4 linked regions of the Homo sapiens genome follow. The protein of the gene in region 2 interacts with the protein of the main gene of each other region in a pairwise test. Each region holds a gene or a part of one and is shown on either strand. Other genes may lie near its edges.

What was found.
Region 1: the proteins of PITX1 (region 2) and MYOZ3 interact in binary tests that used the Homo sapiens proteins (3 or more experiments, as listed by UniProt).
Region 3: the proteins of PITX1 (region 2) and TFAP2D interact in binary tests that used the Homo sapiens proteins (3 or more experiments, as listed by UniProt).
Region 4: the proteins of PITX1 (region 2) and PLEKHB2 interact in binary tests that used the Homo sapiens proteins (3 or more experiments, as listed by UniProt).

Annotation. Positions count from the first base shown.
Region 1 is NC_000005.10:150,664,251-150,671,250, forward strand, and holds part of MYOZ3 (myozenin-3), read left to right. Parts: intron 1-1,263; exon of another isoform or gene 1,264-1,781; intron 1,782-3,866; exon of another isoform or gene 3,867-4,022; intron 4,023-4,135; exon of another isoform or gene 4,136-4,348; intron 4,349-5,072; exon of another isoform or gene 5,073-5,180; intron 5,181-5,899; exon of another isoform or gene 5,900-5,959; intron 5,960-6,233; coding exon 6,234-6,388; exon of another isoform or gene 6,389-6,557; intron 6,558-7,000. UniProt on the Homo sapiens protein: Myozenins may serve as intracellular binding proteins involved in linking Z line proteins such as alpha-actinin, gamma-filamin, TCAP/telethonin, LDB3/ZASP and localizing calcineurin signaling to the sarcomere.
Region 2 is NC_000005.10:135,027,214-135,031,251, forward strand, and holds the end of PITX1 (pituitary homeobox 1), read right to left. Parts: intron 2,109-4,038; coding exon 1,566-2,108; 3' UTR 521-1,565; downstream 1-520. UniProt on the Homo sapiens protein: Sequence-specific transcription factor that binds gene promoters and activates their transcription. May play a role in the development of anterior structures, and in particular, the brain and facies and in specifying the identity or structure of hindlimb.
Region 3 is NC_000006.12:50,708,646-50,716,534, reverse strand, and holds the start of TFAP2D (transcription factor AP-2-delta), read right to left. Parts: upstream 3,010-7,889; 5' UTR 2,480-3,009; coding exon 2,441-2,479; intron 1,420-2,440; coding exon 922-1,419; intron 1-921.
Region 4 is NC_000002.12:131,129,326-131,136,368, forward strand, and holds part of PLEKHB2 (pleckstrin homology domain-containing family B member 2), read left to right. Parts: intron 1-1,395; coding exon 1,396-1,435; intron 1,436-3,576; coding exon 3,577-3,666; coding exon of another isoform or gene 3,667-3,690; intron 3,691-7,043. UniProt on the Homo sapiens protein: Involved in retrograde transport of recycling endosomes.

The sequences.
Region 1 (7,000 bases), about 16 Mb from region 2:
GTCCAGTTTCTTCCCCTACCCTGATTTTGTAGCTGAAATATGCACATTCTATGGGTACTGACGCTCTAACTAGAAGGGTCAGGCAATGCATTCTCTTTTCTCTTGGGGAGTTCATTACAGACCCCCAAATATGGAGACACATCATTGATACAAGACTTGAAATATATAACTTGTTGATTATTGCTAAGGTACTGACTAAAGACAATTTTGAAACAAAAGTAGGAAGAAAAAATAAATCTCATAATCTCACTACCTAAAGACGGCCACTGTAAAGTAAAAGTTATAAAAATGTTTACCATCATTGCATGCTTACTATGTGGCAGATACTTTGCTAAGAGAAAAGTATCCTTTATGCTTTGTGTCATTTCATCCCCACCACAACTCCCTAAGTTAGATATTCTCCTCATTTTGGAAATGAGAATATTGAGGCTCAGAGGAGCAGGTGATCACATCTGGTAGGTGGTAGAGCTGCAATTTGACTCCAGGTCTCTTTGTCTTCAGAGCTGTTTCTTTATTACATGGTTACAATGATAATACATCACTTTTTAAAAAAAAAATTCACTTGCCATTGACTTGGCATACATTAAAAAAATTTGTTTAATTCAGACAAAACAGACATGAACGGCTTTGAAAGTTCATCATAATGGAACCATCTGGAGATAACCACTGTTAACATATTTATGTAAATTCTTGTTCTGTTCATATATGAATGTCTTTATATAAACATACATACACATGGGCTAAATACTATATGCTATGTTCTTTGGCTTTTTTTTTTTTTCATTTAGCAGCATTCCATCCTAGTATGATTTATCTCACGCCTTCCTTCCCCGTGCTTACCAGCTTTCTGCTGTTTGGACACGTCATGTGTGTTTAACCATCCCCTGATGAGGGTTGTCTGGGGTGAGATCCTTCGGGGCAGAACAGAGGAGCCTTGTGCAAGTGACTTATTGAGAACGTGCTCTCGGAAGGGAAGGAGGAATGCAGCCTAGGGTGGGGTACTGCTGAGCGAGGATGTGGGCTCAGCGGCTGTCCAGTTCAGTGTGACCCCGCGGGGAGCTCTCGAGCATGAATTGCTCCACAGAATTCATCCCACCTGAGGCAAGGGCGCTGTGGAGCATCCATTCCACTGGCAGTTCTCTGTAGAAGGTGGTGGTGTGAACTCTTAGCCACTAATAAGGGGCATCTGGCAGCATCCACCACGAGACTGAGTCCCAGTTTTCACAATTTTAAACCCCACTGCAATAAACATTCTTATACATGTATCTTTGGACATATTTATTCAACTTTTTCCCCGAGAATAAATTCCTAGAAATAGAAATACTCAGTCAAATAGATTTTATCTTTTTTTATTTTTTAATAGAGACAGGGTCTTGCTATATTGCCCAGGCTGGTCTTGAACTCCTGGGCCCAAGCAATCCACCCACTTTGCCCTCTGCAAGTGCTGGGATTATAGTTGTGAGCCACTGTGCCTGCCATTTTTTTTTTTTAAATATTGAGCTCAGCTGGGGGAGGTGGCTCACGCCTGTAATCCCAGCACTTTGGGAGACTGAGGCAAGCGGATGACCTGAGGTTGGGAGCTCGAGACCAGCCTGACCAACATGGAGAAACCCCATCTCTACTATAAATACAAAATTAGCCAGGCGTGATGGTGCATGCCTGCAATTCCAGCTACTCGGGAGGCTGAGGCAGGAGAATCGCTTGAACCCGGGAGGCAGAGGTTGCAGTGAGCCGAGATCATGCCATTGCACTCCAGCCTGGGCAACAAGAGTGAAACTCGTCTAAAAAAAAAAAAAAAAAAAGAACAATATTGAGCTCAGCTCATCTGTATAGTATTTCAGAATATGATACTGAGGGTGCTTTATTATGTATTTAGGTATAACTATTCTTTTATATTTTTAAGTAGGCAGTACACTTTCTTGTTAAAAACAGTTACAACAAAACAGTGTAAACAATTTCCAACCCTCCTCCTTTATATGTCCCATGGTCACTGCTGTGGTGACATGTCTCCTTGGCATGTCTCCTTGCAGATTTTTCAATGCATGCAAAAACACATACTTATTTTTTAATATAGAAATGGGGGCCGGGCGCGGTGGCTCACACCTGTAATCCCAACACTTTGGGAGGCTGAGGCGGGCAGATCACTTGTGGTCAGGAGTTTGGGACCAGCCTGGCCAACATGGTGAAACCCCATCTCTGCTAAAAATACAAAAATTAGCCGTGCGTGGTGGCTCATGCCCATAGTCCCAGTTACTTGCGAGACTGAGGCAGGAGAATCACTAGAACCCAGGAGGCAGAGGTTGCAGTGAGCCGAGATTGCACCACTGCACTCTAGCCTGGGCAACAGAGCAAGACTCTGTCTCAAAAAAAAAAAAAAAAAATATATATATATATATATACACACACATATATATAAAATATAGTTATATAATATATAATATAAATGGGATCTTAGAATACCTATTCTTCTGAATCTTACTTTCCCCTCCAATTAATTTATACTGGATTTCTTTTTTTCTTTTTTTTTTGAGACAGCATCTCACTCTTTTGCCCAGACTGGAGCACAGTGACATGATCTCAGCTCATTGCAAACTTCACCTCCACCTTCAAGTGATTCTTGTGCCTCAGCCTCCCAAGTAGCTGAATTACAGGCACACGCCACCATGCCTGGCTAATTTTTGTATTCTTAGTAGAGAAGGGGTTTTGCCATGTTGGCCAGGTTGGTCTTGAACTCCTGACCTCAAGTGATCCACCCTCCTCTGCCTCCCAAAGTGCTGGGATTATGGGTGTGAGCCACTGCGCCCGGCCTATAAGTGGATTTCTTTCTGTTCTTAGCACATAAAAAGTGTCCTTTATGTGTCCGTTGAAAGAATAAAAAAAAATCAGTGTCCTTTTTAGACAGCTATTTAGGATTCCATTGACTGGCATGAATCACAGCACCCAAGTGACCCCCAGTACTGCCTGGTAGCCATGTCCATCTCCCTAGTTCATTCACTATCTCATGCTACTCTCTTAATGACTTTGGCAACCCCTCTTCTCAAACCTCCAATACCTCCTTGCACAACCTCATTCTCAGCTAAAGACCTTGCTTCTTATTCCACTGAGAAAAATAGAGTAACCAGAAGAGAACATCTGCAAGCATCCTCCGCCACATCTGTCTACTTGCTTGCATCTGCACCCGTGTTTGTGGTTTTCCTTTCTGATATGGTGGATGGACTCTCCTCATACCTGCCTGGTGCCAATTCCTCTGGCTGGGCTCTGGAAACCCAGCTCTCCTGTCACTCCTGCTCAAGGACATTCCTTCAGCAATTCTCCCCTCTCTCTATTGCATTGTCAAATGTTCCCGTCAGTTAACGCACATGCTGTTATTTCTCCATTTTTACAAACAAACAAACAAACCCCTCTTGATCCCATAGCTGTCTGTAGCCAGGATCCTTTAAAGCCCAACTCTTCCAAGCAGTTGTCTATATTGTTCTTACCAATCCTCTCTTTCTCTCTTTTTGACATTTTATTAGTCAATTTCCAAAGACACATACAAGTAGGGAGTACATGGTCCCTCCTTCATTCCTAAATTTCAAAGCTAATACCAAAAAGCATGTCATTTCACCCCGCAAATTCTTCAGAATGCATCAAAATAATAAAAGGGCATTTCCTTACATGCCACAAAGATATTAGCATACTGAACAAAATTTGCAGTAATGATTTGATACCATTTAATAAGCGGTCTGTATTCAACCTTCTTCAGTTTTCTAGTTTGTTTTCATCAGCATCCAAACAAGGGCCACAGTTTTTATTTGGTTGCTATGGCTCCTAAATCTCCTTTAATCTAAAGCAACCCCTCTGCCCCTTTTTTCCATGTCACTCACTTGTTTGAAAAACCAGGCCAGTTGTCCTGTAGAATGTCCTGCGTCCTGGATTTGGCTTATCGCTTCCTCATGGTGTGGTTAAACTTGTTCTTCTGTCCATTTTCTCTTGAACCCTCTCCAGTTAGGCTTTCACACCCAAACACTCCATAGAAACTGCTTTAGTGAAAATTACCAATGACCTTGTATTGCTAAATATAATAGTGGATTTTCAGCCCTCATCTTCCTTGACACATCAGCAGCACTTGGCTCTGTTAGTCTCTCTATCATACCTGAAATGCTTTCATCATTTATTTCCAGGATGCCATCCTCTTTAGTTTCTTCCTATGTTGTGGGCTGCTCCTGCCCAGGCTCCTGGCTTGGTTCCTCCTCACCGCCTCACTGTAAATGTTGGAGGCCCCAGGCTCCGTCTCTGATCCTCTTTACCTATTCTCATTTCTTTATGATCTCATCCAGCCTCCCAGCTTAAAATACCATTTATGGAGCTGGAATATGAACGTATGTGTATCTGATTTTAGAGATGGACTAGGCAGGCCGTGCTGCCCACACAGGGCTCTCACCTGCCAAGGTCCTCACCATTCTGTCCCCTCTGTCCTGCAAAAGGCTTCCTTTGTTGGCCAAACGTGAAAGTTTGAATTTGGCTGGTAGGAAACGCACAAAGGATAGGGATGGGTCTCAAACTACTAAGAACAGCCATCACCCTGAAAATCCTCTAAATAGCTGTAAAGACTAGTTCCAACTATGAGAAAAGAAATAAATGTAACGTTCTTCATTGAAAAACAACAACAAATACCAGTAAATACCAGTAAAAGCTCATGATGCCCAACATTTCACCTCCAGGTCAGTTTTCTCCAGATTCACACATCTATCTCCCTCCTCAGCACCACTACTTAGATGCCTACAAGTCTCCTCAAACTTAGTGTGCCCAGTTTTGGAGACAATTAGCAGAGTTTGGATATGGACTAGATATTAGGTAAAACAAAAATTTGTTCACTTGGAAATGTGGAGATCTTTAACTTGTAAAGATCTTGATAAAACAAGTTACAGGCCGGGAGCGGTGGCTCACGCCTGTAATCCCAGCACTCTGGGAGCCCGAGGGGGGGTGGGGGGCGGATCACAAGGTCAGGAGTTTGAGACCAGCCTGGCCAACATGTTGAAACCCCATCTCTACTAAAAATACAAAAATTAGCTGGGCGTGGTGGTGCGCACCTGTAATCCAGCTACTCACGAGCCTAAGGCAGGAGAATTGCTTGAACCCGGGAGGCGGAGGTTGCAGCGAGCCGAGATTGTGCCATTGCACTCCAGCCTGGGTGACATCTCAAAAAAAAAAAAATTACAAAACATGTATGCTATAATTTTATTTTGGTTAAAACCTCATAGGAATATAGTCATTGAAAAAGATATGAAAGGACATACACTAAGGTGTTAATAGTGGCAGTCTCTGGGTGATAGATAATGGTATTTTTCTCTTTTTTGTCTGATATCTGTATTGTCCAACTTTCCTCAGGGCCCATATATGCTTTTTTTTTTTTTTTTTTTTTTTTTTTTTTTTGATGGAAAATCACTCTGTCACCCAGGCTGGAGTGCAGCAATGCAATCTCGGCTTACTGCAACCTCCACCTCCTGGGTTCAAGTGATTCTCCTGCCTCAGCCTCCAGAGTGGCTGGGATTACAGGCATGCGCCACCTACGCCCAGCTAATTTTTCTACTTTTAGTAGAGATGGGTTTTTGCCATGTTGGTCAGGCTGGTCTCGAACCCTTGACCTCAGGTGATGCGCCTGCTTTGGCTTCCCAAAGTGCTGGGATTACAGGCGTGAGCCACCGCGCCTGGCCCATATATGCTTTTTTATAATAATAAAAGGCTATTTTAAAGTTAAAAGAACACAGGTCTAAAACTGAACTCCTGATCTTTCCCAGAACCTTCTCCTCCCTTTGCCTTCCCCATCTCCGTGAATGGCTGCTCTATCCTTCCAGTGGCTAAGGCCAGAAACCTTGCAGTCATCCTCTCTCACTCATTGCCCATACCCATGGCTTACCTTTAAAAAATATCGAGAATCTGACCATTTCTCACTACCTCCACCATTATGGGCAAAGACCTGCATGGGGAATTCATGCAATAAACACAAATGGCCAAAGAACTTCGGAAACAGTGCTAAACTTCACTGAGCAACAAACACATGCAAATTAAACTCTGAGGTGTCATTTTTGCCCATCAGGTGGGCAAAGATTTCAAACAATCATGACACCCGGTGTCGGCAAGCTTGGTGAGAAACAGGCATTCTTACACACAGCATGCCATGCTTCGAGAGGTGGGGCCTGGAGTGTATGGGGGATGGGGTGGTGAGAGCCCGCTCTGGCCTTTCCTGGCAGTCCCTACGCTGGACCTGGGCAAGAAGCTGAGCGTGCCCCAGGACCTGATGATGGAGGAGCTGTCACTACGCAACAACAGAGGGTCCCTCCTCTTCCAGAAGAGGCAGCGCCGTGTGCAGAAGTTCACTTTCGAGTTAGCAGCCAGCCAGCGGGCGGTGAGTAAGCCACCATTGTGCTCATGGGGAAAATGAGGACCACAGAGAGCCACTGGTTAGCCTAAAGTCAAACGGTAAGCCAGGCTGAGGACTGTGATGTTCCCATCAGATTAGGCTCCTGCCTTTCAGTGTGATCCTTGAAAAGTGTTATCTTTTTAGGCATCTCTCCCTGGATACAGAACAAAGTAAACAAAGTGGATTAGGGGGTTGAGGATAAGCCGTGGAGTGAAGGGACTCTGGCTCCTACCAAAAAAAAAAAAAAAAAAAAAAAGCTAAGACAGGCATGCACTCTAGGCTAAATTTGCAGCAGGCTGGATCTAGTTTAGACTTGGGCCTGATCTAAGATGGAAAATGTAGAATGCCCTTTTTTCTTCTTCCCACCGGAGAAAGGAAAGGCCATGGAATAATCTGCTGGTGGAGAAGAAAGGCAAGAAGGGTTTTTCCCTTGGCTTCAGAAAGGCAGCAGGCAGTTCCAGATACTTCTAAGGAAGCCAGGGCTATTCCATCCACCCTCCACTTAATTTCTGGGCTAGACAGGAGGCAACTGAGAGGGAGTGATGTGGCAGAAAAATAAAGATGGCAAAACACCCGCCTTTGCTATGTGCCTAAGAC
Region 2 (4,038 bases):
CCCTCGCTATACTCTGATAGATCCAGCCCCCTCAGTCCTCCTGGAATAGCCTGGCCCTGGCTCCGAGGAGAGAAGAGGGGCTGTTGCTGGGCCCACAGAAGAAAAGGCAACCCCAGGCATAAAGAGGCTCTCAGCAGCCCCTGCCCGAACGCTCCTGGCAGGCAAGGGCCCCATAGCACCCTGGGGCCTCGAGGGTCACCGCAGACCCGGCCTGGGAAGAAACCCGTAGAGTCCCGCAGCCGCGGAGGGAGGGGGTTCTCGCTAAGGCGTCCCGCGGACAACGCCGAGAGGCACAGCTTAGCGGGTGCGCACCGGACAGGCTCGCAACGCAGGACGGTGCCCTCATGGGAGCCAGGCTGAGCAGGTCAAGAATGGTGGTGGGGAAGCGGGGTAGGCAGACCTCGGCGGGGGCTGCCTCGGCGCTCTGCTCCTACCCAAGGGGCCCGGTTCCCTTTCTACCCACAGTTCCCTTTCTATCCGCCTCCCTCCTCAGCCCAATGAAGCAGTCGGGGCTCAGCAGTGCTTAGCACGCTCGGACTATGGTTTTAATAGACGTACATGGACAAGTCGATATAGACAGATTTATTACAGTCAGTCCAACATACACAGGGACGCTGTAAACAGGGGCGCGGGCCGGAGAGCGGGTGTGCAAAGTGGGCGCAGGGCCCTGGGGCCGCGCCCCTTGCTCTGCCGGCTCGACTCTTGCACGGCGGGCGGTGAGGAGGGGGCTGTTCGCCCAGACAGAGGGCCACCTCCTAGCCCGGGAGCAGAGCAGAGGGCCTGGGCCTGCAGCTAAGCTCAAGGCTGGGGTGTTCTGAGATGGACCTCCCCCACCTCCCGCCAGGCCCGCACTGCCCGCTGTCGCTCCGTGGCCTTAATATAGGGCTCCGGGGCGCGGGGCCAGCGAGGCTCTACCAGGCGCGCCGGGGCCGTGTGCGGCTCCACTGAGTGCCCGATCCTGGGCTGGGGGCACCGTCCCCCCAAACCCAACGCCCGCCCCAACACGGATCCGACTCGAGCTAAGGCGCTCTCGGCCGGGCCTAGCTCGGAGAGGGCAACTTGGTTTGTACGGGGTCGGGAAATCCTAGGCAAGTCCAGGCCCCGCACATCCAGTCCGCAGGCCCGGCCACTCAGTCCGGATCCAGCGCGGCGGGGACGCGGGATACGAGGTCGTCCTCCCCCGGCCGCTGGGCCTCGGCGCTCGCCTACCGCGCCGCGTGCCCTCCGCGGAGTGGGCCTCCGGGGCCCGTGGGAACACACACACCACCCGCGCCATCCCGAGAGAAATTGCAACTCATCCATTTTTTCGCGGCACTTTTCTCCGACGTCTTTTTGCTTTTTTTTTTTTTTTTTTTTTTTTGTCTTTTTGGAGGGCAGAGTGGGGTCCGGAAAAGCAAACACAAAACCAACCCGGAGTGGGAAGTGGGAGGAGGGGGCTGCGCAGGTGTGAGGTCCGCGGCGCGGTGAGCTGGGGCTTGCGAGCCGGGGCCCCGCGTGCGTCCTCCGCGCCCGCGCCCGCGCCCTTCCCCGCTCCGGCCGCCGGCCCGCGTGGTGCGGCGGGGCGGTCAGCTGTTGTACTGGCACGCGTTGAGGCCCGAGGCCGGGCCCTGCAGGCCGCCGTAGCCAAACGACGAGTGCTGTTTGGACTTGAGCCGCAGGCTGGCTAGGCTCGAGTTGCACGTGTCCCGGTAGACGCTGTAGGGCGAGGCGGGAGTGCCGTACGGGCAAGCGCCCGGCGACATGGCCGAGTTGAGCGAGGAGCCGGTGAGGTTGTTGATGTTGTTGAGGCCCGAGTTGGGCATGCCAGGCACGGCGCCTGGGCCCATGCTGGACGGCATGGTCATGGAGGAGATGGAGCTGGGTGCTGAGAACATGGACTGCGACGACAGCGGGCTCATGGAGTTGAAGAAGGTGAAGCTCTTGGTGGAGAGCGGCGCTGGCGCCAGGCTCTTGGCGGCCCAGTTGTTGTAGGAGTAGCCGGCGGCGTACACGTCCTCGTAGGGCTGCACTAGGCCGCTGAACTGCGGCACGTAGCCACCCTTGCACAGGTCCAGCTGCTGGTTACGCTCGCGCTTACGCCACTTGGCTCGCCGGTTCTTGAACCAGACCTGGGGGAGGGGACGGGAGAAGGGTCAGGGCCGCTGCGGGCCGGGAGGGACCCCACCCCCTTCCCCACCGCCTGGAGCCTTCCGTCGGCCCGCTGCCCTCCGAACGTCGTTTCTCTCCTTCGACCGATATTTCCGCTCCTGCATTCCCTCCACAATGGTTCCTTTCCTGTCCCCAGAAAATACTAATTTCTTTTTCCGATCTTTATCCTCTCCCGAAATTATATCCGTTTTCTTCTCCGAATACGGATTCTCGTTTAACAGATATTCGTTTTCTTTCTTCCTCTCTCAACCAGTTCACCTCTGCCTTCTCCCCCAAACAGGTTCGCTCTATCTACTAAATATTTCAGTCTTTTTATTCTCCCTCAAATACAAAAGGTATTTTTCCTCCCTGAGACATAGGACTTTCCGACTCCCCCAATTCTTCGATCTATTTCATCGCTCAAATAGTTTGTTATCATCTTTATCGGCAATATTTGATGTTTTCTTTTTGGCTCCAAATGTTTATTTTCGTTCAGTCCACCCCACTGTCTGAACCTCTTTCTTCTCCCTCAGTCTGTTTTCTTGTTTATCCCCCATTTTTGATCCTTTTGAATCGTCCTCAAATATTAGGCTTTTGAATCCTTTCCAAATATCTGACCTGCACTGTTCCCCTTAAACAGTTGATTCTTTTTCTCAAATACCTGATCTTTTTGCTTCCTATTTAATTTCTTTCCTGCCGCCTAAATATATGCCAAATATGTTTCTCCACAAATATTTAAATTTTTTCTATTCTTACTAGATTCTTCTAATCTTCCTGCCCTTCCTTTTCTCCCCCCAAATTTGGTAAGAACCTCCTAGTCCTCCCCCATCCTTACCTATCTGCCTACCGCATGCCCTCTGCCCACTCGGATTTTCCTCCAGTTCTGAGTGGAGTTTCCTGAGCTAGTTTGCCAGATCCCTGCTTCTCAGCTTTCCCTAGTCCCCAGCACTGACACTACCTGATTCCACCCCCACCCACCCCTACCACCATAAACCTGGGCAGGATTAGTGAGTTCAGGATTACTGAGTGCTGTGTCTTCATTCCAAGTCCCACTGGGCTGGCCAGCCTGCCTAGGGAGGGGTGAGGGCTGGGGTTATGGTAAGGAGTCTGTGGGCCAGCTGGGATTTTGGTCGACTTGGGAGGTGCTCCCAATATCTGATTAAATATTTACGCCCCCAGGGAAGAAATGATTCTCTTGCTACCCTGGCAGGAAAGCCTTGCTTTTACTGGAAACCAAACGGGTGAGAAGAGGGAGAATGCAGGCTGGTCTTGGGTCTGAGATGGCATATCCTAAAAGGGACTGGGAAGGACATTTGGCTCCCGGAGCCACCCCCCACCTCACCTGACGGGAGACCTTCCGGAAAGGGCAGAAGGCAAAGGGTCCTACTGATGGCTGGGGAGGGTGGAGAATATCTTGAGCTTTTAGAGAATCTGCTTATGAGATGGGACCACTGCTCCAGGAAGTTTTGAGAGCCCCAAACCCAGGCACCTTTCAGGCTTCTCCGAGGCAGCCAGACAGGACCTGCCTTTCCCTTTCGTTTTCGGGATAAGGCCAACAGCTCCCGAGGTCCCCAGCGGCAGGGAATCCACTGCCCAGTCTCTGGCCCAGGGTATCCTGCTAACATCTGAGTGGGTCCTGGGCCCCATAGGGCATGGGGGAGTCCCCTGGGGGCACAGGTCTTTGGGCTGGGGTTGCCTTAGTCCGAGGATCAGGTAGGATGAGGGTCAAAGGGGTTGAAGGTCCGAGGCGCCTGGAGGCCTGGCAGACGCTAGTGGGCCAGGGCCTAAGGTGGGGATCTCCGGTGGAGGGAGGGAGCAGGTCTGAATGGTGGGAGAGTGAAGTTCTGCTTGTGGGTCTAAGCTTTGGAGGGCTGCAGCAGAGGCGGCCCGGGAGCCCTCTGCGCGGGTGCC
Region 3 (7,889 bases), on a different chromosome or scaffold from region 2:
AGTGATGGCCTCCACAGTGTCTGAATACCTGCCTTCTTTCCTTCCTTCTTCTTTTTCTCCCTTCCTTCCTTCCTTTTCTCCTTCCTTCCTTCCTTCTTTATTTTTTCCCTCTTTCATTACCGTTACTGCCTCATTTTTATCTTTTTAAGGAGGTGCATTTTACGTAAAATGTAATGGCTGGAAGAGCAAAAATAAACTTGTAAATTACCTAACTGGGCTGCGGTTTTGAGTGCACGTCAGGCGGAGAGAATTAAACTCAACCCTACACCCTGGCAAAGTGCACTGTGCGGATTATTTCCTTGGGGTAGAACTTTGAGACTTTCATTTGCGATTCTTTACTTTCCACAGATATCTAGTGTATTTGGTGAAACTTTTGTTCAAGCTTAGGGTCCCAACAATTTCCTTAGAACAAGCCTGTTTGTAGTAAGATCTCCACAAGCTCAGTCTGAGACAAACACCTGGGACGCCTCGGAAGACCCTGTAAAGTGCGGAGATTGAGGGTACGATTGGTCATCAATTTATTGGATCTTACTCTGAGTCCGGTTGGCCCAACCCCAGACTCCTCGATCTCCTCCACCTCATCCCCTCAGGGTCACAAATGTTGATTCACAAAAGACTTCTGTGAGGACAAACCAAAGATGGAGGGCCGCAGCCGCCCGGACTCCCGCACTTCCAGGTGAAATGCTTGGATCCAATGAGAGGAAGAGAACGGGCACACTCCTCCTCTAATTGTTTTGATAACTTTCCATAAGTGGTGTGTGTGTGTGTGTGTGTGTGTGTGTGTGAGAGAGAGAGAGAGAGAGAGAGAGAGAGGAGAAGAGAGAGAGAAAGAGAGACGCTTTACAGTCGGAGCATTAATGGGGCGGCAGGGGGAGGGCGAAGAGGGGAGGGAGCAGACAAATTCGCTGCATGCTTATTTACCTGCAAGTCGTCTGCTCCCGCGGCGGCCAGCCCCAGGCTGGGCCCTGGCAGGAGTCTTTGATCTGGGTGCATTCCATACTGAGAGCCATGGCTCATGAGGGACAGGTCATGGCGGCGGTAGGCATCGAGGCAGCCCAGCTCCCGCCTCTGCTCGTCCAGGCAGGACGACTTGAGCGCCCGCGCATTGTGCAGGTTAATAAAGTCGGTGGGCTCCCCGTGGTGGATCTGCTGGTAGTACTGTTGCGAGTGGTGGAGAGAGTTCAGAGAGTAGGCGTCGGGGGTGACGGCCGGGTGGCTGTGCTGAAACTCGTAATGGAAGGACTGGTGGTGGAGCGGGGTGTACTGGTGGTTAGTGGAGAAGTAGGGGGACGCAAACTCGGTGCCGGTGGTGGAGTAAGTTAAAGGAGAGGAGGAGGAATAGGCGACAGTGGAATTGGCTACTGACTCCAGACAGCCAAGCTGCATCAAACGGTAGCTGTTTGATCCGTCGTGACGTATCTGGAAGGAAGAGGGGGAAAAGGGAGAGCAGAAAAACTTGAGGTTTGTCATTTTGCAACCAAGGCGCCGCTCTCCCGGAGCCAGGAGCTTTCTCTGGCACTCCAAGGAAAGCGAGCGCGTAGGACTCGGGCCGAGCCGAAGCCGGGTCTCAGCGTCTTCACCAGAGAGCCTTTGCAAACAGGCGAACTGGGGGTGGGCGGCCTCGTCCTCACAGTCGAGAGAGCGGAAAAAAAATCCCCCACCCTATATAGGTGCGGGTGACACCACACACGCACACACACGCACAGACACACACACACAGACACACACACAGCCCCTGCCCAACTTGTGCAGGGAGCTTGGCGTTGGGATCCAGGTTTGCAACTGACTCCGGGGCCGCGGGTAGCAGAGGAACGAGTCCACCCGAAAAGAGCGCTGGCCCGGGGCGCCTTGCCACTCTAACTAGACCCCAGCATCGAAATTCTGCGCCTGTCTATGCCGAGATGTTCGGCCCGGGCTGCTCAAAATCATTGTCCATATATTTTAAAAAATCCAGTCTGTGCAAATCGTTCAACTTGCTCCCTTCCTTAGTCATTCGAGGGAGGGAATCCGACTCCCTCTTTTCTGCTTCCCTTTCCTTGAATAAGCCCATTCCAAAAGGGGTGCGTTTTCCCCATCCCCCTTGTGCATCTACTGCTTCCCCACCAGTCCCTTTTCTTTGCTTTTCTGAGAATCTTTCTTTCCGTCTCTATCTCTTTCTCTTCACTCCCCCCTTTTATTATTAAGATTATGTTTTCCCGCTCATTATGGCAAATGTTTCTTAACGTGGCAGAGAGTTGCCCTCCCTGGCGACAGATGTCATAACGAACTTTCTCCCCTTTCCTTCCTTAACTTCCCCCGAAAGACAGATTATAATTAAACGTAACGGTCCAATATAGATTAGAGACAGGGGAGGCTGCCACCGCCGCCGCCACCGCCGCCACCGCCGCCGCCGCCACACACACGCGCGCTCAAAAAAAAAAAAAAAAAAAAGTAATAATACCTCGGCATCGTGGACTAGTCCCGGAAAGGTAGTTGACATGTTGGGTTTCTCCGAAAGCTTACGATGCAATTTCCCCCTCCAAAAAAAGAATCGGGAAAAAAAAATCCAAACTTCTTGTATTTTCCAATTTTTAAAGGAAAAAAAAAATGTTCTATAGGTAGATATCTAAATTGTAATGGTTTTGCCCGGATCAGATAGCTCCTTGCCTCGTACCCACTTAAAAACCTGTAGGAACAAAATTTTCCCTCTGCACAAAAGCAGCTCCCTGGAACAGATTTTGTACTTGCTGAGTATTTCTTTGGCTGATGTCGTAGGTCCCTTGGTAATATAGAAGTTTTGAAAATTAAGCATCAGCACTGAGAACTGGGAGGACAATAGGCAGAAGAGATTTATCCCAGGAGACAAGGAATAAATATTGTATCTTCGCCTAATAAGGAACTGGAGGTTCTTTCAACATTTTTATCCATTTTTTCCAACCTTTATCATGCTTTTCTATACCGACTGAGGTGGGGACTTATCTCTGTGGAGAGTATTTGCACACATTTTATTGTGAAGCTAGAGCTCTAGCTCCAATATATGTATATTAGAGATAGAAATATATATTAATTAAAGCTTCCTTTTATATGGGGAAGTGTTCATTCCTATTGGTTCCACTCCCTGGATGCTGAAAGCTGCTTTTTCCAACAACCACCCGAATCAATTTTGCCCAGATTGGGGTGTCTGCCTTCGCCCAAGTGGAAACAATGCTGGTCTTTCCATATTTACATTGAATTTGGGTTCTTTCCCCTTTTTTGAAAGGCAAAATCAAGCGGTGGCTTACACTTTTCAGCAGCTTTAAAAATAAATAATGGTGATGGACAGTCCCAAGTTTCCATCATCAGGAAATGGTGTAACTGGCAATGCATTTAGGAAAAATGCAAGGGAATAAAGATGTAAGACAAGATTCTACATTTAGGTAAACTGTTGTCTTTCACTCCCCAAACCAAACCATATCCCCCCTCTTTTGTGTTTTTCTTCTTCCCTTTTGGAAACACTGCTGGTGGTGGTGGGGTGTAGACCGTTCAGCAGTAGCATTAGGTTTTTGAACACTATTACCCCCAAAATAACCCTTAAATGCTTGGAAGTTATATTTTATAAATAGAGGGCAGGAAGGAAGCAGTGCACACATATTTCCATCTCTTCAGTGGATTTCTTGACTTTCAAACAGTTTTTGAGCTTTCCTTCCTTCAAAATTCAGCTTCCTCCACCAAGTTGTTTAGTGCCTGGAGGGGGTGGTGGTAGCTATAAACCTGAAATACTGAGGCTTTGCTCCTCAGTGTCTACATTATAAGAAAGAACTGGCTGGCCCCACAGACTCATCTCATAGATAGAAGGGGTAATTCAGTCTTAATTGCCATTTCATTTGGTTTGCTTTTAAGTGTTTAAGCTGAGAAGGTGTCTTAATAATAAGCCTCAGGCAAACAGGCATGTGGCTTTTTTTTTTTTTAGGTTGGGGTTTGGGAGGGTTTATTAGGATCTGCTCATGCAGGCTAACTGGGGCTGTCACTCAGAGCTCTTTGCTTTATACAAATGGACAAAGGCACACGACAAGAATTGAAATGCATTGTCTGAAATGGAGATACACGATTCTTCAGCCCCACATGGGGTCAGCAGCCAACACTTGTTCCCTATTTCAAGGTGTGCCAGTGCTGCCCCCCTCCCACCCCTCCTTGAAATTCCATATTTTGGCCTAATGAAGTAAGGAGACTGAGAGACCAATGATGACAAAAAGGAAGAATATCCAACTTAATCTTTAAGTAAAAGGGGTAAAATGAGTGCTGTTGGCTCTAGGGGTTGAATCCCAAAAATGTTTGCAGTGGAGTCTTTGTTTACCAGGTCTGAGTGGGGCCTCCATAGCTTACCCACGGAGAAAATAACTAATCATCTCTGGGAGATGGAGACTGCCCCCACGACCTTAACTCAGGCACCCCTGCCCCTGGGAAAGTGCAGACCATTCCCTGGAAGAATATGTAGGACTTGCAGGTTATCTTGGGGAATGCCCAGGTGCGCTTTTCCTGGTGGATGATATTGGCTTCCCAGTTAGTCCCGGTCAAATGGAAGAGGATAGCCCTTCTCAGACATGTTGCAATCTCCTTTCCAACACCCCTACTGTCAGATACACCTTCATTGAAGGTGACGGTACCTTCTCTTCCCAGTTTAGGTCCAGGCAGCAGACACAAAACCCTCTCCCCGGGGAACAACAATGAGGAAGCTCAGGAAGATGTGGCCGCCTGCTCTGCCTGCTGGCCCAGAGTGTTTGTTCCACATGTTTGTCCCTGTCTGGAATAAGAGCCACACATAGCCCCCCTCACCCCTGCCACCGCACTCAGAAGATATAGCTTTATGATACTCTCGGTAATGAGCTCTGGCCTTGAACTGAGTACACCCCATGGAATGACCTCCAGTAGCCTGGACCCTGTGAACATCAGGACATCACCAACTAACTGGCAATCATCGCATTCCACCCCCTAACCCCACTTTCATGGTTCACTTTCCTGAGTGACTTTTAGGTATCCAAACAAAGAGTGTCCAGGGTTTAACTTACATGCTTGTTGAACTCTTGTGGACATGAGGGGAAACTAAAGATCCTGAAGAGTGAGAAAAGACCCTTTCATTTGTACTTAAGGAAAATGAAGCAGGAAGGATAAAATGGCTCTCTTTTAGTTTTGAGATTTCCCTTGCCAGGGCCCTTGACTACCTTAGAAAGCATCCCTCTTAACCCTATGTCTTGGCTTCCCACACCAGCATCTGAACTGCAGGGAAACTTCATTTGGCCAACTGCTCCCTCCCACTTCATTCCAACTTAAAAAAATAAAAAAGCTGTTTTCCCCTGAAAGAAACAAAGTTGAGGAAATCATCCATGCCATATGCACATATTGGTCAGCGCTCCCTTCCATCTGCTCTGGGGTTGCTCAGCGCGCCCCTTTTCTAAAGAAACTCATTGAGGCAGGTGTGTGGTGTGTTTGGTGCCTGTGTGTGTGTGTGTGTGTGTGATGTGATGTGTGTGTGTGTAGCGTTCATTTCTGTCAGACACCCCCCCATCCAATTAATAGTCTTGAGCAATTAATAAGTGTCGTCTGACTTGACCCAAAGACTGGGCTTTTTAGCAAAGTTGATTCCTCTTTCTCTGTTTTACTTCTTTTCCAGAGAGTGATTGGTCACTCATTTTCCAGCGGGTGGCATAATTGAATTAACTGGCCACAGCACTCTGGTGACTATTGCCTGGGGCCCCCTCCAACAGGGAACCCGTGGTGTGCATTCCAGCCTCAGTCAGAGGCCAGGCCGGCGTCAGTCACTCAAAATAGCCGGCAAGAGCATGGTGGACACGCTGCTGGCCTTGCACCCCAAAAGCTGAAAAGGTTGTTCCTCAGCACTTAGTTCTCCTGTTCTTCCTTCTGGTTCCATGCTCCACATGCCAGGAAGGAATGTCTTATGGCAGTCACTTTAGGAATCTGCAAAGAAATCTTTATATATATATATATCATTATTGTCTTGGTTAGAATCCAGAGCTGGAAGAGTTTTGGGGTAGTTGCAAATTCCTTCCTGGGCTTCTAGGCCAGCGTTATACAAATCACTCCAATCTCAACATCCAATCTCAAACATCTTTACAGTTTTCACCCAATCTCAAACATCTTCACTGAAAGAGTTTGCCACTCCACTGTGTGTTTGAGGTTGGTGAACAATTACAAACGAACTCATGCCTATCCCTAGCTTTAATAAACATGTATTTCTTCAGGTTTCTTTCTTTTTTTCTCTTTCTTTTGGTACTTAGGGTTTCCTTTGCTATTGCAAATTGATTTTGTTTTTTTATTGCTTGAATACACTTCTCCCACAAAATTGCCTATATAATACTGAGCAAAGTGGAATAATTATTGGAATTATTTTGGGCATTTTGAAACAAAAATATTTTCTTGGATGTATTTAGACACATGAATCAACCAGAATATCTTCTTTGCTCTCTCCCTTTTGCCCTCCCTCCCCTTTTTTTTCTTTCTCTCTTTCTTCTTCCTTCATTTCTTCTCTTTTTCTTTCCCTGTTTTTTTTCTTTTATTCCCTCCCTCCTTGCTTCCCTCCTTTCCTTCCTTTTTAACAAAAGATAGATAGAGATGGGATTGAATCTCTTATACTTATGCCTTTTAGGCAAACATGTGTGTACATTGTCTAAGAATGAAATTTAGCATGTTCTGCTCCAGTGGGAGGTGCAGCTGTATAACCAGACATGAATTTACACAATAGGAAACAATTTCCATGGTCACAAAGACCCTGTCTTTGAAAGAACAGTGGGGCACTAAGGATCCCATATAGGTGAATGATGTTCATTCCACAAAGCAAAACAAGATATGTAGGTATGAAAATCAGCACCTCTCCTTACTGCTTCCAGCTTCTGCCCTTTCACTCCTTTTTTGGATGAACATGAAGAGCAGAGGTGCCTTCAGAGAATCCATAGTAACCAAAGGACTCCTGCGACTTATCTAGTGGTGTTTTATTCCATCTGCCCTCGGGCCCCCTTCCACCATTTTGAGAATCCCCAACCGTCTCAGTGCCTCCACTTGGTAGGCTTCCGAGAGGCACTCAGCCTGGGGTCTTCTAGAGACAACCACAGAGGGAACCTTCAGGGCCCTTTTACAGCAGGGTCTAAGTTTCACAGTCACTTCGGATTCTAATGGTTCAGAAACGTCTTCTAGTCCAAGGACCTCCTGTGGTGTGATTCTTCCAAGCTCCTAACCTCTCCTAGTCACTCAGTCACTGCTCTTGGGGAATGCCCAAGAGCTCTGGTGAGTGGGTGGGGGCAATACTTCAGGTGGTGGAAAAGAAGAGTATGCTGGGTTCACCATGCCGTAAACCAACCCCTAGTTTATTCATTTATTCTTCACTAGTCGAGATGAAGACAGAAAAGTGCTCCAAACACCAGGGCAATTCTGGGCAGAGACAGCAATCGAAAACTTGATCCAGTTGTATGGATCGGAATATTCGGAGAGAAAAGGCATGGTAACGGGCATTCATGTGCAGACGCGCGAGGTTTCCCCTCCCAGTGATTGCTTCCTTTCCTTCTGGCCTGTGCTGATGCCGACTCTGGGTCTCTTTCGAAAGGTCCCTCCCTTTTCCAGTTATCAAATCTGATAATTCTTAATAAATGATCAAGTAATCAAATTTGACAACTCTTCTACTTCTCGGTATTCTACACCCATCCTACTTTCTATGACAGAAGTGCCACGTTGCGTAAAACGTTACCTAATTGCAAACAAGAAAAGGAGGCTTTTTTTTTTTTTTTTTTTGAGACACGGTCTCTGTTGCCCAGGCTGGAGTATGGTGGCGCGATCTCGGTTCACTGCAACCTCCGCCTCCCGGGTTCAAGCGATTCTCCTGCTTCAGCCTCCCAAGTAGCTGGGACTACAGGCGCGTTCCACCA
Region 4 (7,043 bases), on a different chromosome or scaffold from region 2:
AAAAAAAAAAAAAAAAAAAAAAAAAAAGAAAGCCAGAACACTTGAAAATAAGTGAATGAATCTTTCAACTCAGGGAGATAGTAAAATGAGAATAAAACATAAAAGGAATTGATGAAGATAAGAGGGATAGGGTCAGTAAGAAAAGTAAGGGGTAAAGGAGTGAGGGAGTGCACAAGAGAACACTATTTTGTTTTTTGAGATGGAGTTTCGCTCTTGTTGCCCAGGCTAGAGTGCAATGGTATAATCTCCGCTCATTGCAACCTCTGCCTCCCGGGTTCAAGCACTTCTCCTGCCTCAGCCTCTGGAGTAGCTGAAATTACAGGCATGTGCCACCACGCCCAGCTAATTTTGTGTTTTTAGTAGAAGCTTGGTTTTACCATGTTGGCCAGGCTGGTCTCGAACTCCTGACCTCAGGTGATCACCTACCTTGACCTCCCGAAGTGCTGGGATTACAGGCGTGAGAGACTGCTTTTTGCCTATGAATTAAGAAAGCTCTTGTGATACTTAAGGTTCAGATATCTAGTTTTTTTTGACAATATAGTGTAAAGTTGGTAGGTATAGAGATTGTTAGAATCGTTTTGCAGGGCATTTTGGCAATACCTGCTGAAATAAATTATGTTTTTATCCTTTGATGTGGTATTTTCAGTCTTTGGAATTTGCCCTGTGGAGATGTTTACATAAGAGTGTAAGGGTAATAGGGATGTTAATAGCATTCTTTTCTTCTTTTTTTTTTCTTGAGATAGAGCCCCTCTCTCTCATCCAGGCTAGAGTGCAGTGGTGTGATCTTGGCTCACTACAGCCTCGACCTCCCAGGCGCAAGCTATTCTCCCACCTCAGCCTCCCAAGTAGCTTGGACTGCAGGCATGCGCCACCATGCCCGGCTAATGTTTATATTTTTTGTAGAGCTAGGATTTCACTATGTTGCCCAGGCTGGTCTTGAACTCCTGGGCTCAAGTGATCCCCCTGCCTTGGCCTCCCATAGTGCTGGGATTACAGGTATGAGGCACTACATCCGGTCCCCAGCATTCTTTTTAATGTTGAAAAATTGCTAATCTAAATTTTTTACTCATATCGTGGAATATTATATAGCTGGTAAAAAGGAAGTAGATCTGTGTGTATGCCATGAACTGACAAAGCAAGTGGCAGTACATTTCACATTTATTAAAAAGTAAAGTAAAAAGTATAGTATAGATTATGTTTTAAATATTACATATCTATTATGTATGTAATTTTTAAAAATATATATTCCTAGTGCATGTCTCAAGTGGTTTGGGGCAAAGCCTGAAGACTTGTTTTTTAAACAGATCTTTTCAGGAATTCTGATGCCAGCCCAGGTTTCAGAATCATTGCAATGTTGGATTGCCTTAAATAAAGTACCCTTTTTCTTTTCTCCAGGGCCTGGAAATTTACACTCCAAGATTCTAGGACAAACACAGTAAGTTGCTAATGGCAATCACCAATAATTTTTTTTTTTTTTGACAAGGTGTCACTCTCACTCAGGCTTGAGTGCAGTGGTGCTGTCTCACCTCACTGCAGCCTCTACCTCTCGGGCTCAAGTAGTCCTCCCACCTCAGCCTCCCCTTCCCAGTAGCTGGGACTATAGGCCCATGCTACCACGCCCAGCTTATTTGAAAAAATTTTTTTGTAGAGACGAAGTCTCACTATATTACCCATGCTGGTATCCAACTTCTGGGCTCAAGTGATCCTCCCACTTTCGCCTCCCAAAGTGCTGGGATTACAGGCATGAGCCACCACACCCGGCCACCAGTAATGTTTTCACATGGTCTTGTGTAACAATTGGAGAATGGGGAAAACGGGTTTCTTGACCATCTGGCCACGAATGGGCAGGTAGTGCTGGGCAGGGCGCCTTTTGCCAACAGTGAGCAAGCTGGGTTTGTCAAATGTTTGGCAGGAGGCACCCTGCTCTTACAGGCATGCTTGTTCCAGTGTTGCTTTCTAGAAATGCTTGTATTTCTCAAAGTTCTGCAACACTTTGAATTGTGCTGTGGTTTGCAGTAAAGGCTTAGAAAGAACTGCAGGATCCTTTTCACGCATGGGAGCTCAGCCTGTGAAACAAACATTTTTGTGACTTGTACTTGTCTCTCGTCCTGTTTCTGGCCTTAGGAGGTCACTGAGACAGTGAACCTCATTTGTAGAGCCTCGTAATGCTGTCTTTATCTGTCAGTGATCAAGGGAGTGTGTTACTCTGGTCAGAGTTTTCATTCTTTAGATGGGATTTTTCTCTCCTTTATTAATCTGTAAGAAAAGAAGAAGGTGGATCAAGCTTACAGAAGAATGTGTGCATGTGGGAGAAGAAAGTAAAAGGCTTAATATCCTAATAGCGTCAGTGTTCTCTTCCTTTGTTAGCACACAACAACTTCATTCTAAGCTTACTCTACAGCCGCAGTTACCTTTTCTTCATGAAAATCCCCCTTTTTTTTTTTTTTTTTGGGTAAAATTAGCATTAACAATCCATACAGTTAAGGGCAAGCTCCCCAAATGATTCTTTGTGTGGATTTTTTTTTTTTGAGACAGTCTCACTCTGTCGCCCAGGCCAGAGTGCAGTGGAGCGATCTCGGCTCACTGCAACCTCTGCCTCCTGGGTTCAAGCAGTTCTCCTGCCTCAGAATCCTGAATAGCTGGGATTACAGGCACGTGCCACCACGCCCAGCTAATTTTTGTATTTTTAGTAGAGATGGGGTTTCATCATGTTGGTCAGGCTGGTCTCAACTCCTGACCTAGTGATCTGCCTGCCTTGGCCTCCCAAAATGCTGTGATTAAAGGCATGAGCCATTGCGCCTGGCCACTTTTTCTTTTTTTTTAAAGAGCTAACATGTTTTTCTTTAAATTATACTGGGGAGTAATTTAATGAAGAATTTTGTTTTTTAAGGTAAAAAACAGACTTATGTATAGGACATATCTCTTGATACATTTTAGATTGTAGAGTTTTTATTTGTGAATAAAGGACTGTTGAGAGTGCTGTAACATCTTTATTTTTTTGGAGACAGTCTCGCCTTGTTGCCTGGGCTGGAGTGCAGTGACTTGATCTTGGCTCACTGCAGTCTCGAGCTCCTGGGCTCGAGTGATCCTTGAGACTTAGCCTTCTGAGTAGCTGGGGCCATAAGCACCATGCCCAGTTAATTTCTTGTTTTTTGTAGAGATGAGCTCTCCCTCTGTTGCCTAGGCTGGCCTTGGAACTCCTGGGCTCTAGTGATCCTCTCACCCAGCCTCCCCAAAGTGTTGGGATTATAGGTGTGAGCCATTGCACCTGGCCTGATGTAACATCTTTTAAAAGGCATTGGGTAACAGTGGGGCCTCTGAGTGCCTTCCTGGCTGTGAGAGCTGTAGTCCTGTTAGGGGCCGAGTGAGGACCACTTTGCTCTTGCATTTAGAGGATACCAGAATAGGGGTGGGGGCCCCCACTGGACTGGGGGAGTTTTTCCTGTTTTGCAGAGAGCTATGTATCTTTTTGTTTTTTTAAATTTTTAATTTGCTAAATAAAAGGGACAATGCACAGCATCGAGCACACAGCTGCTGGGAAGCTGTCCTGTCCTCACCCTCTCCTGTCTCCCGCAGGCGTATGTGGGCTCTGCAGTCATGACCGATGAGACATCCGTGGTTTCCTCACCTCCACCATACACGGCCTATGCTGCACCGGCCCCTGAGGTAGGGAGAACCCTGAGCCTCCAGGTGAGGGAAGTTTGGGGTCTCTGCTGCTGTCCTGCTTTGTTTTGTTTTTTTAAATGAAATTAGAAATGTACTCTAAACCTTTTCTTCTTAAAACAGATGATTTCTTATCAACGTTTGTTTTCATGAAATGAAGCAACTATTTTATATAGTTCAGCACATTATAATGTGCTGTATTAATGTGTAACACGTTTTTAAGATAGATCTAAAAATGCATCATGTTAATGATAGTTGCCTTGGGTAATGAGATTTTGATGATCTGTAGTTTATATGGAATGAATTATTTGAATTCTCCTTATAGTCAGAAAAAAATGCTATATTTTAGGGAAAATAACCTTAAAAAATCATGTCAAATACATTGGGATGTCCTCTTGTTGGGGTGCTGACTGAGCTAGTGGAACGTATGTAAGTCTGTTGTGTGGAACACGCAGCTTTTAAAAAAATTGAATTTTGAAATAATTATAGATTCACAAGAAGTTGCAAAGATAGCTTTGAGAGTCTCATGTGCTTTTTATGTGTTTTCCCCATTTGTTAATATTCGATCAAATTAAACCCAGGAATTTGGAATTGGTGTGGTATTTAAGAGTAATCCTGTGTCATTTTCTCATACGTGTAGATTGTGTAGCTACCACCTCAATCAAGATAAAGAATTCTTCACAAAATCTTCCTGCTGTGACACCCTTTAATAGTCATGCCATCCCTCTGCTTCCCTAAACCCTGTCAATCACTGAACTGTTCTCCAGCTCTATAGTTTTATCATTTCAACAATGTCATATAAATGAAATCATATAGCACGTGGTCTTGGGAGTTTAACGTTTTTCACTCAGTATTTGCCCTTGAGATCTGTCCAAGTTGCTCTTTGTCAATAATCCTTTTTATTGCTGAGTGGTTTTTTTTTTTTTTTTGGGATGGAGTCTTGCTCTATCGCCCAGGCTGGAGTGCAGTGGCTCGATCTCGGCTCACTAAAAGCTCCGCCTCCTGGGTTCTCGGCATTCTCCTGCCTCAGCCTCCCGAGTAGCTGGGACTACAGGCGCCCGCCACCACGCCCGGCTAATTTTTTGTATTTTTAGTAGAGACGGGGTTTCACTGTGTTAGCCAGGATGGTCTCAATCTCCTGACCTCATGATCCGCCCACCTCGGCCTCCCAAAGTGCTGGGATTACAGGTGTCAGCCACTGCACCCGGCCCTTTTGAGATGGAGTTTCGCTTTTGTTGCCTATACTGGAGTGCAGTGGCACGATCTCGGCTCACCACAACCTCCACCTCCCGGGTTCAAGCGGTTCTCCTGCCTCAGCTTCCCAAAGAGCTAGGATTACAGGCATGAGCTGATTTATTGGCTTTTCCTTTTCTCGGTTGTGCTTTTGCTGTCAGGTTAAAACTTAACATGACAAACCTAGCCCAAGTTTCCTAAGATTTTCTCCTACATTATTTTCTGAAAGTTTTATAGTGAGGTTTTATAATTATTCTGTATTAATTTTGAATTAATTTTTTATAAGATAGATGTCTTTTTCAGGGCTCTGTTGAGTGTATCTCTTTCTGAGGTCTGTGGTCTGCTCCATTGTTCTGTATTGTTACCTTCCTTTGATCCCACACAGTCTTAATTATTGCAGCTATTATAAAAAGTCTTGGAACTGGGTGGACTGATCAACACCCTCTTTGTTCCTTTTTGGAAATGTTTTAGCTATTCTGGTTCCATTAGCTTTCCATATACATTAGAATAAATTTGTTTATATCTACAATGAAATCTTGCAAGGCTTTTGCAGGAATTGCCTTAAACCTGTGTCATATTTATTTGGAGAGTAATGACATCTTTATTGAATGTTGAATCTTCCAGTTATAAACATGGACTGCATGTGTATTTAGATCCTCTTTGATTTTTTTCATCAGCATTTTGAGGTTTTCAGTATAAAAATCCCATACATGTTTTGTTAGATTTATAAGTGTTTCAGTTTTTTTAGTGATTGCATATGGTATTACATTTTTAGTTTTAGTTTCCTTTGTTTACTGCCAGTATAGAGAAATAGAATTGATTTTTGTAGGTTGATCTTGCAGCTTGTAAACTTTCTCTTTTTTTTTTGAGACAGAGTGTCTCTCTTATTGCCCAGGCTGGAGTGCAGTGGCGCGATCTTGGCTGACTGCACCCTCCGCCTCCTGGGTTCAAGCGATTCTCCTGCCTCAGCCTCCTGAGTAGCCGGGATTACAGGCACGTGCCACCACACTAATTTTTTGTATTTTTAGTAGAGATGGGGTTTCACCATGATGGCCAGGCTAGTTTCAAACTCCTGACCACAGGTGATCCACCTGCCTTGGCCTTCAAAGTGCTGGGATTACAGGCATGAGCCATGGTGCCTGGTCGGCGCCTGTAAACTTTCTAAGCTCACTTACTCTATTTCCTTTTTCTGTAGATTCTTTGGGATATACTACATAGGCAATCATGTCATCTACAAATAGGAATCTGTTTTCTTTGTAACCTTTATGCCTTCTGTTTCCTTACCTTGCCTTGTTGCCTTGGTTAGACCTTCAAATATTATGTAGAATAGCAGTAGTGAGAGAAGACATCCTTGCCTTGTTCCTGATTTTAGGGGGGATGTATTCAGTGTTTTTTTTTGAGATGGAGTCTCGCTCTGTCACCCAGGCTCTGGAGTGCAGTGGCGAGATCTCGGCTCACTGCAAGCTCCGCCTCCCGGGTTCACACCATTCTGCCTCAGCCTCTCTAGTAGTTGTGACTACAGGCACCTGCCACCATGCCCGGCTAATTTTTTTATTTTTTTTATTTTTAGTAGAGACGGGGTTTCACCATGTTAGCCAGGATGGTCTCGATCTCCTGACCTTGTGATCCACCCACCTTGGCCTACCAGAGTGCTAGGAATACAGGCGTGAGCCACCGCGCCCGGCCAGTGTATTCAGTTTTAAGTATGCATTCATTTATTATGAATGTACTGTTTAATTCAGTATTTAATTAGTACTGAATTCAGTATTTAGTTTTACATATGCATATATTTAGTATTTAATGCATTCATTAAGTATGCTGTTAGCTGGAGGTTTTTTATATTTATTCTTTATCAGGTTTAGAAATTCCCTTTTTCTAGTTTCCAGGAGTGTTTATCATGACTGGTTGTCAGTTGCTTGCCTGCCTGTCTTCCTGCCTCCTCCCTCCCTCCCTCCCTCCCTCTCTCCTTTCCCCCGCCCGTCCCCTCTCCTCCTCTCCTCTCCTCTCTCCCCTGACCCCCTGAGAGATGAGGTCTCACTCTCTTGCCCAGGATGGAGTGCAGTGGTACTATCATTAGCTCACTTCAGCCTGGAATTCCTGGGCTGAGGCAATCCTCTTGCCTCAGCCTCCTGAGCCACCATGGCTGC